Regions from separate parts of the Homo sapiens genome. Here region 2 is linked to region 1. Evidence: fine-mapped expression QTL. Tissue or cell type: subcutaneous fat. Region 1 holds a variant in brackets; the other region holds the start of a gene. All regions are shown on one strand. Distances are from middle to middle.

Evidence for each region. PIP is the estimated chance that this variant, and not a neighbour inherited with it, causes the effect.
Region 2: ZNF415 starts here. The variant in region 1 is fine-mapped to the expression of ZNF415 in subcutaneous fat (GTEx, PIP above 0.99). The same link has a PIP of 0.9 or more in breast, lung, visceral fat and whole blood.

What each region holds. Positions count from the first base shown.
Region 1 is chr19:53,082,867-53,090,972 of GRCh38, forward strand. It overlaps ZNF160 (zinc finger protein 160), which reads right to left. Exons shown (of 6, transcript NM_001322131.2): 3 at 3,396-3,455. The coding sequence starts at 3,410. Among named protein-coding and RNA genes, the nearest start is that of ZNF160, 17 kb to the right of the region's middle. The variant G/A (reference allele first, on the strand shown) is at 4,388.
Region 2 is chr19:53,128,588-53,136,693 of GRCh38, forward strand. ZNF415 (zinc finger protein 415) reads right to left here and starts at 4,323. Exons shown (of 4, transcript NM_018355.4): 1 at 4,269-4,323. ZNF347 (zinc finger protein 347) reads right to left here. Exons shown (of 5, transcript NM_032584.3): 5 at 6,348-8,106.

The DNA of each region.
Region 1 (8,106 bases):
AGGTTGTTTTTCCTGTGCTTTTGACAGACTGACTATTAATCAGGGTTCCTGTAACTCCCTCATTGGGTTCAATTAATTTGCTAGACCTCACAGACCTCAGGGAGACACTTTATGTACATTTACCCATTTATTATAAAGGATATTACAATGAATACATATGAAGAGATGCATACAGTGAAGTATTGGAAAAGGGGTTGGAACTTCCATGCCCTCCCTGAGTATGCCACCCTCAGGAATCTCCACGTGTTCACCTAAACTGAAGCTCTCTGAACCATGTGCTTTTGTGTTTTCATAGAAACTTCATGAAGTAGGCATGATTAAACCATTGGCCACTGGTGATCAACTTAACCTTCGTCGCCTCTCCCCCTCCCTGGTAGCTGAGGAGTGGAGTTTAAAGCCCCAATCTTCCAATCTTGCCTTGGATATTCTGGCAACTCAGGCCCCATCCTGAAGCTTGTTGGAGGCTGCCAGCTATCAGTCAATGCATCAGCATGCAAAAAGACAACACTTAGGAAACTCTATAGATTTTAGGAGCTGTATATGCCAGGAACTGGGTCAAAGACAAAGGCCATGTGAACAATCCACTGGTAGATAAAGATAAAGCATACCATTTCATTTCGTTAAGGCCTTCCAAAATAAGATAAACTGAACAAATAATTGAGAAAGGGGTAAGCAACGAAAGATTATTTTTACAGTAGAATAATGTGTAATCGAAAGGAAGACAACAGTGCGTATATAAAGAATTAAACCAAGCCGGGCACAATGGCTCATGCCTATAATCCCAGCACTTTAGGAGGCACAGTCAGGAGGATGGCTTGGGCCCAGGAGTTTGAGACCAGCCTGGGCAACATAGTGAGACCCTGTCTCTACAAAAAACAAAAACATAAAAAATTATCTGGGTGTGGCAGCACACAACCGTAGTCCCAGCTACTCAGGAGACTGAGGTGGGACAATTGCTTAGGCCAAGGAGGTCAAGGCTACAGTGAGCCATGACTGTACTGTAACCAAGTACGCTCATTTTTCTAAGAAAAAGGGAGTGAGTTATTATTTTTTTCTCTTATTTTCTCCTTTCCCCATTTTCCCCTGTTCCCTACTTCCTACTTAGCCCTTTAGAAATACACTTATAACCTTTTACCTCCCCTTCAGCAGACACTCTCTACAGGGCAAGTTCATCCAACTATGTGCTTCGAGCTCCAGAGGGGAATCTCACTTGCCAGGAGGTTACCTCGAGAAACAGCAATCAATCTACAACCCAAAGTCCTGCTACAAAACTCTCTCCCACCCGGAGAGTTTCAGCCACTTTTACAACCCAGTTCTGCCCACGAAGGCACCAGTGGCTGCCAGCTCAACCCCCTGGTACGTAAGGCACAGAAGCAAGTTAGGGGGACACCCACCTGCTCGCTTCCTCTCCTTAGTGCCATTCATGCCAAGCCCGCCTTTTAAAAGCGCCTGCTTTCTGCTCCAAAAGCAATGCAGTACCTTACGGCAGGAAGCCTGTACTTCTTCCCCTAAGCTAGCTTTGGAATAAAAAGTCACTGTCTTTCTACCAGACCTTGCTCTTGTTAACTGGACTCTGCAAGCAGCGAGCAACTGAACCTGCATGTCAGTGACAGAGCCGCCGTGCTCCGGCCTCGCTCCAGCAACAGGGTGAGACCCTGTCTCAAAAAATGTAGTAAAAGTTAAAAAGAAAATAAACCGCAGAATACAACACAGCTCCTGAATTCCAGGAACAGAAAATGGAGCAAAGTATAAAAATTCATTTCATATATACACATCCACAAAGTAATGCAACCCACTCAGACTCACAAGGAATAAGAAAATGAAAATAAAATGGGTTGCATTATCCCCGCATTTTCATAATATAAAATGAACACAGTGGCAAGTTTGCTTAATGAGGGGGAAATCTGACGTGGCATTGGTGGGAGAGGGCACCTCTGCACCTGGGGTAGGGATAGAATCTTGCCAGATCTAGCAACACAGGAAATGTGCCATCCTAGAAGAGATCACTCTTCCAATCGTCCAGCCTGGAGGAACTCTCCACGATCCATAGTGAAGTCGGCATGGTCACAGGCAGCCAGGGTGGCACCTTTTTTTTTTTTTTTTTTGAGACAAGGTCTTGTTCTATCACTCAGGCTGAAGTGCAGTGGCACTATCATGGCTCACTGCAGCCTCAATCTCTGGGGCTCAAATGATCCTCCCACCTTGGCTTCCACAAGTGCTGGGATTACAGGTGTGAGCCACCATGCAGCACCCTGTGTGGCATTCTTTATAGAAGTGAGAAAGTTAAAAGATCCACCTGTCTTCATTCCCAGCATGCTCCAACAAGGATGTAGAAAAGTGAGCTCCTGTTTCCTAACACGAAAACATGTCAATGTTCAAAACTTGCAGGTTAACATATCACAACCAAACATTCACTGAGGAATTTGTTTAAATCTCATAATGATGTCAAAATACATTTCTACAGGACTTGCACTGACCCTTCCCACAGAATTGAGAACAGTGGCTCCCCACTAAGATGTGAGGGAGGGTGGAAGGCTGGACAGGAAAAGGGATGCTTTACCTCTTGGCACATAAATGTATCATTTCACTATAAAAGAAATATATACATGATGCCATGTTCAAAATAAAAGAAACAAAATGTTGACTCATAACTGGTAAAACAAAAATACAGTTCCATTCTCTCTAATGGCAAGGTTGTTCTGCTTATATGCCATTCTCACCTACAATACCCGACGGACAAAGGTTCTTGTAAGAACATCACAGTCTCCATGGGATAGAGCTTCTGAGACTAGTTTAATGAATCTTGTTACACATTTATGTTGACGTCATACATTAAAATGGATGATGGAATGAAAGAATCATCTATCTCCAATGTCAGTGTCTAAACTTTCCATTCTGTTCCCAGTCTTTACGAGTTTGGAGTCGGAAATCCAATGACTCACTTGTTCGGCTTCAAATGCAGTTACCAATGAGGCAGGAAAGCTTTCCCCTTAGTGTTCTTTTCTATGCCAGTGAGCAGGTACGTGTGCACCTGACTTCATGGGCAGCTTCTGTTATCATGGTTTACACAGCGCTGACAGTGCATCCAGATGCGGCCCCTGAGCAATCCCTGCTGCCCAACAGCACTGACACCACAGGACCCTCACCCCGTCTCCATCCATGTCTGGGTGTGAGCCCTTCCCAGGACCATGCCCAGTGCAGCCTCTTCCCAAGTTCATGTCACTGGATCACGGGAGATGGAATCTAAACGAGATGAGAGGGACTGAGGGAAGGCGCGGGTGAGTGCTAGCAAACATGTCAGGCAGGACGCTTCAGACTCAGAGAAGATTCGCAATGCCAATGCCAGGCATTTCAGGAAGAAATAAAAGAACAATCCACCAGGAGTATCACTTTACCTGAGTAAGGGCCATCCCTGACTCCTTTTCTTTCCTCTTCCTCTTCTTCCAGACTTCTTCCTTGGGTAACATAAAAGAGTCTTTAGAAGTCAATACTGAATATCCAAAATATGCTGCTTAGGGCTGAGAATCTATACATCCCCTTCATGTGCCACAGTCACACGCACAGATCTCACCCTGTGGAAAGATGGTCCTCTGCGCCCCACTGCACCAGGGGGAATACGGGGACGAGAAACTCCTACAGGAAGAAGTGAGTTTCTGACCCCTTTCTTCAGAACCCACCTTCCTCCTGGAGAAGCCCACACACACTGCAGCAGTGGGGAGCTGGGCTGGACTGAGCTCCCCTTTAGGACACAGACCCAGCCCTGACCAAACCCCATGCAGAACACAGCCCCCCTCACCTCTCTGTGGATCCCAGGCTGAGCTCAGCCTTCAGAAACAAAAGACAGTGATTGGTACTATGCTGGCTACAGAATAGAGTCAACTTTAAATATTACTCAGCTGGGCTCTAAAACACTGAAATGAAAATACGTCAAGGGGGCACAAGAGATGTTTCTGCAAAACGCCTAGGCACTCTAATATGAAGCCAGGGTTGAGCTCCACTGAGGGGGTGAGCCCAGCACAGCCCCACCTTCTGGCTCTGCTCTCCTGTTGGGGACTTGTTCTCACCAGGATCCAGACTGGATATTGAAGGAGCAAAAAGAATCACACAGAACAGGCAACATGGACCAGAGGTGGGGGTGAAGGTGGGCCTGCAATGTCAAATAGGAGGCTGTGGGAGATCACAAACGTTTCCACGGAGGAAGTGATGTCAGAACAAAGACCTCAGGAAGAAAGGCTGCTTGTCACTTGCAGCTGAGAGGCCAGGGAGTTCTAGGCAGAGGGCCAGCCCACATGGAAGCCTTGAGGCAGGAGCAACCTTGGCTCCAGGAAAAGGAAAGGGGCCTGTGTGACTGGAGCAGAGGGGGCTGGGAGGACACAGGAAGGAGATG[G/A]CGTCTGAGAGGTCCTGAGGGTGCAGATCACGCAGGGAGAGGTCTTCAAACATTCTTTCTCCCATACGTCAAAAAAATTTATGAAACCATGTATTTCCTCACCTGTTTTAAGTAAATGCTTAATTTTTTCTTCATTTTACAAAGTAACACACTTACAACATAGTATCTTGCATATTTTAAACATGACAAGAAGTTCAGCTGAGCCCCAGGAAGTACAGGGTTGCCCTTAGCTGAGATGTGCAAGACTGCAGGGGTGAATATGTTTGGAGGAGTTTGGGAAGTCACTTTTATTTAAATAATTAATTAATTAATTTTTGAGAGAGTTTCACTCTTGTTGCCCAGGCTGGAGTGCAGTAGCGTGATCTCGGCTCACTGCAGCCTCCGCCTCCTGGGTTCAAGCGATTCTCCTGCCTCAGCCTCCTGAGTAGCTGGGATTACAGGCGCCCGCCACCACGCCCGGCTAATTTTTTGTATTTTTAGTAGAGATAGGGTTTCGCCATGTTGGCCAGGCTGGTCTCAAACTCCTGGCCTCAGGTGATCCGCCTGCCTCGGCCTCCCAAAGTGCTGGGATTATAGGCATGAGCCACTGTGCCCAGCCAAGAAGTCACTTTTAGGCATATGAAAATGGAGATGCCTGTTGGGACATCCCTGTAGAGAGTTTTGGAGACAACTAGACACAGGATTCTAGACCTCAGAGGAGGGTCTGCAGGGTACATGGGGCTGAGTATTAACAGGTGGGGCATAAAGCCATGAGATGAGAAGTACGGAAAGGCAGTGGGTGTGGACGGAGACAAGAAGAGGTGTAAGGACTGAGCCATGAGCACTTGCACATTCAGAGAACAAGAAAGTTCTGGAGACACCAGAAGAGGAAAGCAGAAAGTGATCAGAGTGGCAAGAAGATTGAATAGATTTGTAAAGGTTAACGGGGTGTCATAAAAGCCAAGATAACAGAAGAGGAAGTGATCAGCTGTGCTACATGCTACCGACAGGAAGAAAAAGATGAGGACAGGACATGAATTACGGCATTTAGGAATTGGGAGGTCACTGATGACTGAAAAAGGAAGAATCAGTGGAATGCTGGATGTGAAAGCTAGATTCAAGCAACAATTCAAAGGTTTAAGCAATAATTGAAGACAAAGTGGCCGCACACGGCTCACGCTTGTAATCCCAGTACTTTGGGAGGTTGAGGTGGAAAGACTACTTGAGCCCAGGAGTTTGAGACCAGCCTGGCCAACACAGCAAGATCCTGTCTCTATATTTTTATTTAAAAAAAAAAAAAGAATTGAAGACAAAGTAAAACTAGTTTTTAGAATATTATGCTCTTAAATAGAGCACAAATAGGTACTTATTACAGAGGGAAATGTAGTTGAAAGTATTTTTTTGTCTTAAAGATGGAAGAGTAGAAGAAAAAAAGGCTTTATCATGCATTGGAGATCTGTTCAGAGAGGAAAAAAATTGTTCATACTACTCTGACACTCTAACACAGAATATTTCACCTCTAGTCACCAAAATGTGTGTCATTGTCCCCACAATGACAGCTTCTCCAGCAGACTCCCAGGTAGGGAGTCCTGCTGTTTTACTCAATTCTGACACCGTCTACAAAACAGAATCAGACACCACAGCTTGAGGGTTCAGTCGCACAGGACTGCCCTCACTTCATATGCTGTACGCTCTGACTGACCTGGTCAATGTGCTTCCCTAACACTTTCCTTGGGTTTGAATAACTAGCTAGCACAGCTTTTCCATCTGGCTGTTCATCTGTGTCCTTTGCAACATACTTTATAATAAATGAGTAAACTAAGTGTTGTCCTGAGTTCGGTGAATGACCGTGGCAAATTACTACAACCTGAGGAGGGGGGTCAAGTGAATCCCCAATTTACAGTTGGTCGCCCAGAAGTTCAGGTCCCAACCTGCAACTTGTGACCGGCATTTGAAGTGGGGGTAGCCCTGTGGAACTGACCAACCAGTAAACAGCATCTGATCCTAATTCTAGCTGGACAGTGTCAGAATTGAGTTGAAGTATAAGTTCACCCAGTTAGTGTCGGATGGAAAATGCATTGCTGGTGGGAAGAAGTTCCTCCACATTTTGGTGATGAGTTTTCTGTGTGGAGTGTTCACTATTACATTGACTGTACACTATTATATTGACTATAATCAGCATCATATAATACTAAATATTATGTAATCAGTATTACATTAACTCATGTTCTCGCCCCTACCCAACCCCATCCCAGGGAAATGGAGGAAGAGCGTGGCCCACAAATGAATGAGTCAAGTCACTGCCCTCTGGCTGAAAAGGTTACAAGTGGAAGCTAACCTCTGATGCCATAATTATAAAATGCATAGCCTTATAGACAAGTTTTGCAATTCTCATCTTTATCTGTGTATTTTAAGCATATTTAAAATCTGTTAGATTATAAAGACAGAAATCAACATGTCACAACTAAATTACCCATATTCAATCAACTCACCACTCACCTGAACCAAGGTCCCCTCCTTCTTCCTTCCTGTGTGTTTCCCTCTCTCATTCTGTACATATCTCATCCTCACCTTCCCTCCCTGGCTCTTTTTTTCCGATGTTTCCCCCCAGGTTTCTGCTCCTCATTTTGAGCCCCTCTCCTCTCCTGCTCTTTCTCCCCTTCTTCCCTCCATTCCTTCTCTTCCCCCTGTTCTGCTCCATTCCTACAACTTCTTCCACCTCTTATTCCTTTCTGCCCAAACTTTTCATTGTCCCAATCCCAATCTCCACATATTTCTGCCTCTTTCTTCCCTCATCTTTGCTCCCCCTCTGCTCCCCCTATTAAATCCCCTCTTCCCTGTTACACCCCTTGTCCCCACTCTCTGGCACCCCCAGATCCAAAGCCTTCCCATACTGTGGTTCTCCCTCTGCTCTCCTTGTCACCAGCTGTCCCGTCTTGCTGTCCCAGCACCACATTGCTGTCTGCCCTGACTCCAAATTCCTCCTCCTCTCCCCCACTCTCTGTCTGAGGAGCCTCCCCCTTTCTGCCCCTCTCCCTATCTTGCTGTCCTTCATCTCTCTGGAGACCCAGCTTTTCTCTATATTTCTCCAGTTGCTCCCTGCCCCACACTTTCTCAGCTTTGTCTTTCACTCTCAGTGTCTGTCTGCAAATTCCCCACCCATCCTCTGCGTTGCCATCTGTTCATGGTTCTCACCCGTCCTTCTCACTCCTTCTCAGTTTTTCTATTTCCTCTTTCTCCTGTCTCTCTTTCTCCTGATCCCCTGTGGCCACATATTTACAGGGAAGGGGATGGAATAAGATGCCCACCTACTGAAAGCACTTTTCCTAGTGGAGTGGAATCTGGGACAAAAGAACATTGGAGGTGAACAGACAGGCCCAAGTCACCTCCTTCAACGCTGGGTCAGAGGAAGCCATGCTTATGAGGGGGAGGCCTGCAGGATAGAGGGCAAGGCTCAATGAGAGCAAGATGGGAGGGTGTCTCAGGGGAGGGGTGGGATCTGTGGAATCCCAGGACCAGGGCGAGGACTCTCTTGCACCGGAGCTGCGGTGCTGCTGTGCAGACGCAATGAAGGGCGAGGCTTAGGGGACCCAAAGGGTGAATGCACCTCGCGGGTGAGGACCTTACAAGGCACAGGGTGGGAAGTGAGTAAAGGGTTTTAAGCAGGAAATGGCATGAAAGCTCTCTACATGGGCTGAAGGCAGAAATACTGCAAGCAGGACCTGTCTGTGTGGTTCAAT
Region 2 (8,106 bases), 46 kb after region 1:
GGGCCCCGCTGATGTGTAGAGCGTGGAAGACCCGGGAGCTGGAGTAAGGCGGTGGGGACGCCTCGGCACTGGCTGAGGACACAGGGTCTGCGGGGCTTTTCAGGCCTCAGTGAGGCCTTCTGCTCTTACATAGACTGGAATAAATAGCCACAGGAAGTTTAGACCAATTACAGATGAAATTTCCAGAATATGAGACCATCCTCACTACCCGCCCTGTCCTTTTGGTCTTCCCTGAGGAGTCTTCAGCCCAACCCCAGCCCCAGCATCTGAACCACAACCCCGGAGCAGGTGCTGCAGTCATCCCGTGGCCCAGATGGAGACTGTGTCCTCCAATGGAGGGAGACACAAAACACTCAAAATAATCCACGCAGAAGAGTGTCCGATGTGGTGATGGATGCGGAGACAGTGAAACCTGAATAATGTGATAGAGAGTGACGGGCAGAGAGAATTTCAGATGGGGGTGGGAGGGCACGGGAGACATCTCTCAGTCTAGACCCGAAGGAGGAAAAAGGGACAGGGTCACGATCATTTAGGGACATAGGGTAAAAGCAGGGACAACGACCCGTGACAGGAAGGGTTTTGACATTTGGGAAAAGAGAAAAGCAAATGTGACTGGTGCAGAGGGAGTCATGAGATGAGGGCAAGCTCCCAGGAGGAGGCTGGACACTGGCAGGGGCCCTGGACACAGGGCTGTGGAGCCACAGTGAGGAGTTGGGCTTTTGTCCTGGGGAACACAGGAAGCTGGTGGAGGGTTCCCTGCCAGGGACTGACGTGACCTGCTTTAGATTTCTCTGTGATGTCCTCATACAGAGAAAGGCCCCGAAGATGGTCTCTGTGTCTGAGTCCCTGCTTCACATTCTTGTTTTCATTTTTAGAGGAAGAAATCCAAATAAAAATTTTAATTGCAACTGGCTAGTCCCCCCACATACAACTGCCAAACACAAATGCACACCCAATTTTGCCCCAAATTTCAGGAGTCAGTGTTGCTCACATTGAGGTTTTCTGGTCTAGTCCCTTATCTCTGTTACAGGTGGGCTCACTGAGGCTGAGAGAGGGAGTCATTTCACCAAGTTATCCTGAGAGGTCTGAGTTGAGTGAGAAGGAGGAGATGTGGCTGAATTATGATGTCACGACCTGGAAGGGCCAATGGGCTGTGTTTGCCTTTATCACATCTCCCTTAGAAAATTCCAGGACTGGCCAGGCATGTTGGCTCGTGCCTGTAATCCCAGCACTTCGAGGCTGAAGGAGGGGAGATTACTTGAGGCCAGGAGTTTGAGACCAGCCTGGCCAACATGATGAAAGCTCATCTCTATCAAAAAACACAAAAGTTAGCCGGGTGTGGTGGCCTGTGCCTGTAATCCCAGCTACTCAGGAGGCTGAGGCAGGAGAATCGCTTGAACCCGGGAGGCGGAGGTTGCAGTGAGCCGAGATTGCACCACTGTACTCCAGCCTGGGTGAGAGAGCAAGACTCCAGCTCACAAAAAAAAAAAAAAAGAAAAGAAAAAAAGAAAATTCCCAGACCCTCTTTCACATATCTGAGCAAAAGAAACTTCTTCAAGGTTTTATCACATTGGTTCCAAATGCAGCTCACAGCTTACTATTTTAACAAATTACACAAAAGAAGAAAATTGAATAATAGACTAGTTAAACTAGGTTTCCATGTTAAGGTAAAAACATCATTGACATCTTTATCAGGTACACATTGAAACAATCTAAAATTACCTACTAGTCAACAAATAATGCTTCTATTATATAATAAAGAGCAGAAAGCATGCAGACCTCTATCAAAACTGGACACAATTAATTTCAAAGGGAAAGATTTTGAAATTGTTAAGAAATATCTGATGAATTTTGGAGCTAAAAAAATTGAAAACACATTATATTTAGAAAATGCCATGAGCTGATTATAGGATGCCACCAAAGTTACTTTGGAAATAATTATATACAGAAAAATAGAAACTGAATTAATGAAGATCTATCTCAAGTTGCAAAATGAACTATACATGAGATGAAAGGGAATTAGTAAGAAAAAAAGCAAATCAATTACAAAAAGCAACAACACTTTTTTTGTTTGTTCTTTGTTTTTTTTTCAGACGCAGTCTTGCTCTGTCACCGGATCTCGGCTCTTGGCTCACTGCAACCTCCGCCTCCCGGGTTTACACAATGCTTTGCCTCAGCCTCCTGAGTAGCTGGGATTACAGATGCGTGTCACCATACCTGGCTAAGTTTTGTATTTTTAGTAGAGATGGGGTTTCACCATCTTTGCCAGGCTGGTCTTGAACTACTGACCTTGTGATTCACCCACCTCGGCCTCCCAAAGTGCTGGGATTACAGGCATGAGCCACCATGCCCAGCCTCAACACTTTTAATGTTCCTTTTGAGCAACGTTGTCCAATCCGCAGCCCAGGAAGGCTTTGAATGCAGCCCAACACAAATTCCTAAACTTCCTTAAAACATTTTGAGATTTTCTTGCAACTTTTTTTTTTTTTTTTTTTTTTTTTTTTAGCTCATCAGCTATTGTTAGTGTTAGTGTACTTTATGTGTGGCCCAAGACAATTCTTCTTCCAATGTGGCCCAGGGAAGCCAAAAGATTGGACACCCCTGCTTTAGAGAGACACTATGTAGTGACAGTCTTTCACTTTCTGCCCAGCTTTACTCTCCCACTCCCCCTTCCCCTCCCCCTGCCCCAACGCCAGGGAAGGGGAAGAGGATGACCTGTGGAATTAATGAGTCAAGTCACTTCCCTCTGCCTTAACAGGGATTGCAAGTGGAAGCTAACTTCTGATGCCATAATTATAAAATGCACCAGCCTTAATAGACAGGAGCTTTGCAATTCTCATCATCTGTGCATTTTAAACTTATAAAGACAGAAATCAACAGGTCAAAAGGTAGTCATCACATCCAGTCAGTTCACAACTCACCTGGACCTGGGGTCCCCCTCTTTCCTCATTATGGTGTGTTTCCCTCCCTCGTTCCGTACATCGCTCTCATTCTCACCTTCTTTCTCTAGCTCTTTCCTTCCCCTTTATTTTCTCCCTAGGATTCTGCTCATTTTGAGCCCCTCTCCTCTCCTGCTGCTCCTCCCCGTCTTCCCTCTATTCTTTCTCTTCCACTTGCTCTTTCCATTCTTGCAATGTATTTAATTCCTCTTTCTTCCTAATCTTTTCATTGTCCCAGTCTCCACATATTTCTGGCTCTTTCTTCCCCATTTCAGCACTCCCTGTTAAATTCCCTCTTCCCTGTTACACACCGTTGTCCCCACTCTTTGGCACCCCCAGATCCCAGGCCTCCCCGTGCTGTGGTTCTCCCTCTGCTTCTCCTTGTCATCGGCTGCCCCCTCTTGCTGTCCCGGTACCACACTGCCCTGTCTGCCCTGGCTCCAAATCCCTTCTGCTCTCCCCCACTCTCTGTCTGAGGAGCCTCCTCCTTTGCTGCCCCTCTCCCTACCTGGCTGTCCTTCATCTCTCTGGATACTGTGCTTTTTCTCGAAATGTGTCTAGTTACTTTTCTCTCCCTGCTACTTTCTCGGCTTCTTCTTCCACTCTTACTGTCTCTGAAAATCTCTAACCATCCTCTACTTTGCCATCTGTTTATTGGTTTGCCTCATTCCTTCCTGTCTCAGGTTTTCTACTGCTCTCTCTGTCCCTCGATCCCTTTGGCCCACACATTCACAGGACGGTTTGGGGTAAGACGCCTGCATCCTGGAGGAGCGCATTTTCCACGGGGTGGAGGAGGGCAGGCAAGAACATCGGGTGTCACAGGACAGGCCCTGAGCACCTCCCCAGCGCGGGCTCAGGGGAGGCCTGGGGAGCAGCGGGGCCCGGCACGAGGAGGAGGGAGGTGGGGCGCGACAGCGCCTTCAGACAGGGGTGGGGTCTGCAGGATCCCAGGACCAGGCAGAGGACGCAAGGCTCCCCGGGACTGCGGCTGCAGCTGCGGCGCTGCGCTCCAGGGGCCGACGAGGGCAAGGCTGGGAGGCACCCAGGACGGGAATACACCTCTTGGGTGAAGACTTTAAAAAGCCCGGGGATGGGGGAGGGGGTCAGGAAAAGGTTTTAAGCGGGAGGAAGAAGCAAAAGGCCGGGGACGGGGAGCAGCCTCAAAGCGACTTCAACCCAAAGGGAAGCGACTCCGGACCCACACTGCGAGGCCTGTATTCACCTGGGGTGGAGTGTACGGGGATTTTAAGGGCCGTATCGACCCTGGACATCGGCTGTGGAAATGGGAAACAGGGAGCGCAGGTTTAATCTACACAGAGGGTCACTCACGCTCGACGCCGTCACCTTCACCCAACGCGATCCGTTTCCGGGCCTGTAGGAAACTGCGCATGCGCGGAGAGAAGAGCCCGGGCAGCCTGAAGGAATGGCTGGAGTGGGCGGGGTCTGCGCCGCTTTAAGGTAAAAAAATCAGAGTTGTGTGGGCCACTTATGGTGGAAACCAAAATGTTTTCCACTTACCAAGTTGAAAACGGTTTATGTTAAAACTATTTTGCCTGCAGGTTGGACCCGATCCTGCTAGGGAGTCTCCTGCAGCTTAGCAGTCCGGGAACTGGGATTTCGGTGGGGAATCCAAAACTAGCAGTGATTGGATCCATAAAAGTTACCAAAAAACAAAAATGAAGTGTCTGGAATCACTCCACTGGATTTCAAGACTACCAATATAGGAAAGGTAATAAAAACTGTGTGGTTTTGGGGCAATAAAAGACATATGGATTGATGCAATACAGTAAGAGAGTACAAAAATAGCCTCTACAGGTACTTCCAACTGATTTTTGACAAAGTTACCAAGGGAATTGAATGAAGAATTTTTAAAAACTGGTGAGGGGCTAACTTAATATCCACAGCAGGAAAGAAGTCATCTCTACTCAAACTTCACAACCGTACAGACATTAGTTCAACATTGACCATAGCCTAAATGTAAAATATCAAACCATAAAATGGTATCCTGTAGGAGACTGAAAGAAAAAATTACTCACAATAAAATCGTAAGAATCAAGAGCTTGTTCAAAAATTCTTAGCCATAGCAGCAAAAGCATGATTCATTAAAGAAAAAAAAAATCAACTGGTATTTACCAAATTAAAAACTTTTGGTCTGTGAAAGACCTTCAGACGATGAAAGAAAAGGTATTTGATATGGTTTGGCTCAGTGTCCCCATCAAATCTCATTTTCAAGTATAAACCTCAGGTGTTGAGGGAGGGACCTGGTGGGAGGTGACTGGATCATGGGGGTGGTTTTCCCCAAGCCGTTCTCATGATAGTGAGCTCTCAGGAGATCTCATGGTTTAAAAATCTGTGATAGTTCCTCCTTTGATCGCTCTCTCTCCTGCTGCAAGCAAGACGTGCCTTGCTTCGCCTTTGCCTTCCTCTATGATTGTAAGTTTCCTGAGGGCTCCCTAGCCATGCGGAACTGTGAGTCAATTAAACCTCTTTTGTTTATAAATTACCCAGTCTCAGGTTGTCACAGGAGGGTTTAGGCAGTGTGAAAATGGACTAATACAGTACTGAATAATAGAAAATATTTGCCTACCATATATCTGACATAAAACTGGTATGTGGAATGTATAAAGAATCCTAGAACGACTTAAAAAAAAAGCAAAATAATCAAATTAGAAAATGGATAGAACTATGAAGAGACATTTCACTGAAGCAGATATACTGAGATAAATGGGCACATAAAAAGATTTCCAACATCACCATCCATCAAATCTCAGACCTCAGCATATTCTGCTTTCTCCATGTGAACCCCTGGATGCTGTCAGAGATCATGAGAAACACAGGAGCTTCTACTGAACAGTCCAGTTGATGTGTATTAGCAACCTGTAATTGTTTTTGGAAACGAACAATGGAAACACAGATACAAAAATATTCTCAGCTCAAGAAATATGCACTTTGTCATTATTAGTGATTTTTTTTTTTTTTTGAGACAGAGTCTTGTTCTGTCACCCAGGCTGGAGTGCGGTGGTGTGATCTCAGCTTACTGTAACCTCTACCTCCCAGGCTCAAGCGATTCTCCTGCCTCAGCCTCTTGAGTAGCTTCAACCACACGCACGCGCCACCACACCCAGCTATTTTTTGTATTTTTAGTAGAGATGGGTTTTCACCATGTTGGCCAGGCTGGTCTCCAATTCCTGACCTCAGGAGATCCACCCCCCTTGGCCTCCCAAAGTGCTGGGATTACAGGGGTGAGCTACAGCGCCTGGCCACCACTAGAACTAACACCTCAGGTACTGGATGCCTCCTTCGAAAGATTGGATAATCGTTCTTACAGGATTATGTGGTAATGAGTGTCTCTGTCATTCATTTAGGTAAGATGCATACGCAATAGTGATCTATAAAATATAGACTTAATTGATCTATAAAAATATAGATTTAATACAAAGTTACCACAATCACAATGATATATGAAGATAAACCATTTAAAAATTACAAGAGATACTAACAAAATAGGTATAGATGGTGAGTAAAGGACAAAAATAACTAGCATTGTTACTGTAGCATCATCATTAAAAGCTTTGTCTTTGCAACCAGACAACATGGATTCAAATCTCGATTCTGCCTCTTACTGAAATGTGACAAGATGAGTCTTTTAAAGCAGAATATGCTGAGATCTGAGATTTGATGGATGGTGATGTTGGAAATCTTTTTATGTGCCTATTTATCTCAGTATAACTGCTTCAGTGAAATGTCTCTTCATAGTTCTACCCATTTTCTAAATATATATATATATATATATATATATATATATATATATATAGAGAGAGAGAGAGAGAGAGAGAGAGAGAAAGAGAGAGAGAGAGAGAGAGAGAGATGGAGTCCCGCTCTGTCACTGAGACTGGAGTGCAATGGTGGGAACTCGGCTAACTGCAACATCCGCCTCCCAGGCTCAAGCAATTCTCCTGCCTCAGCCTCCCGAATAGCTGGGATTACAGGCGCCCGCCATCACACCCAGCTAATTTTTGTATTTTTAGTAGAGACGGGGTTTCACCATGTTGATCAGGCTGGTCTCGAATTCCTGACCTCAGGTGATCCCCCCGCCTCGGCCTCCCAAAGTGCTGGGATTACAGGCATGAGCCACTGTGCCCAGCCTAATTTGATTATTTTGCTTATCTGTCCTAAGTTTCCTCACCTCTGAAATGAGAATATCATTAATACTTATTTCAGGAGCTGATGATTCAGTTGTTACACATAAAGCATTAATAACTGTGATTCTTACTCTAAATGTGATTGATATAAAATATATATGCAAAGATAAATCACTTATTAAAGAATATATATCAGTTTTTTAAAATGGAAACAAATCTAAGGGGAGTATATTAAATGGCAGCTGTCATTGCAAAAGTTGCACAAATATCATGTTTTGCTGTAAGATCCTCTGGCTCAGAAAAGAAATACCAGCCACAGTAGGAAGTTGAATTGCCTCCAGGGATTCAATGAGAGAAATTATCTCCTTTGCATAAATGATAATTAATATCTTGGGGACTCTCTTATTAACTGTATTTTCATTTACTTCTCCAGATGCTGGTTAACCTCCACACGCTTGATTTTCAAGCATCTGATCTTTGATAACTTCCATATTAAGAGACTTCATTTCACCATCTAGTATCCCTGTACTTTAATTGAACTAAAGATTTACAAGGACACTCCATTTTCCTATTTACAGAGAACCTAGTCTGTACCTGCCATTGTTTTACATACATTTTCATGTCACAAAATTTTATTTCTAAACAACACCCTCATTTATGTATTTTCTAAGTGTTCACTGGAGTAACACAGAGAAGAAATGCAGTAAACATATAATTTGGATTAAAATGTATGGAAGGAAAAAATCCTTAAAGTAAAAATCATATACAAAAACAAAAAGTCATTTTACTACTATTGGCTCATGGCTGTAATCCTAGCACTTTGGGAAGCTGAGGCAGGAGGAATGCTTGAGGCCAAGAGTTCAAGACCAACCTGGCCAACATAGCGAGACCCCACGTCTAAAAAGAAAAAGAAAAAAAAAAAGAAAAGAAGCTATGGAGAATATGTTACACAATACCATAAACTGAACAAGACATGAATATAACACAGCCTTTGGAAAAATGCCCTTTGGCTAAAATTGCTTGAT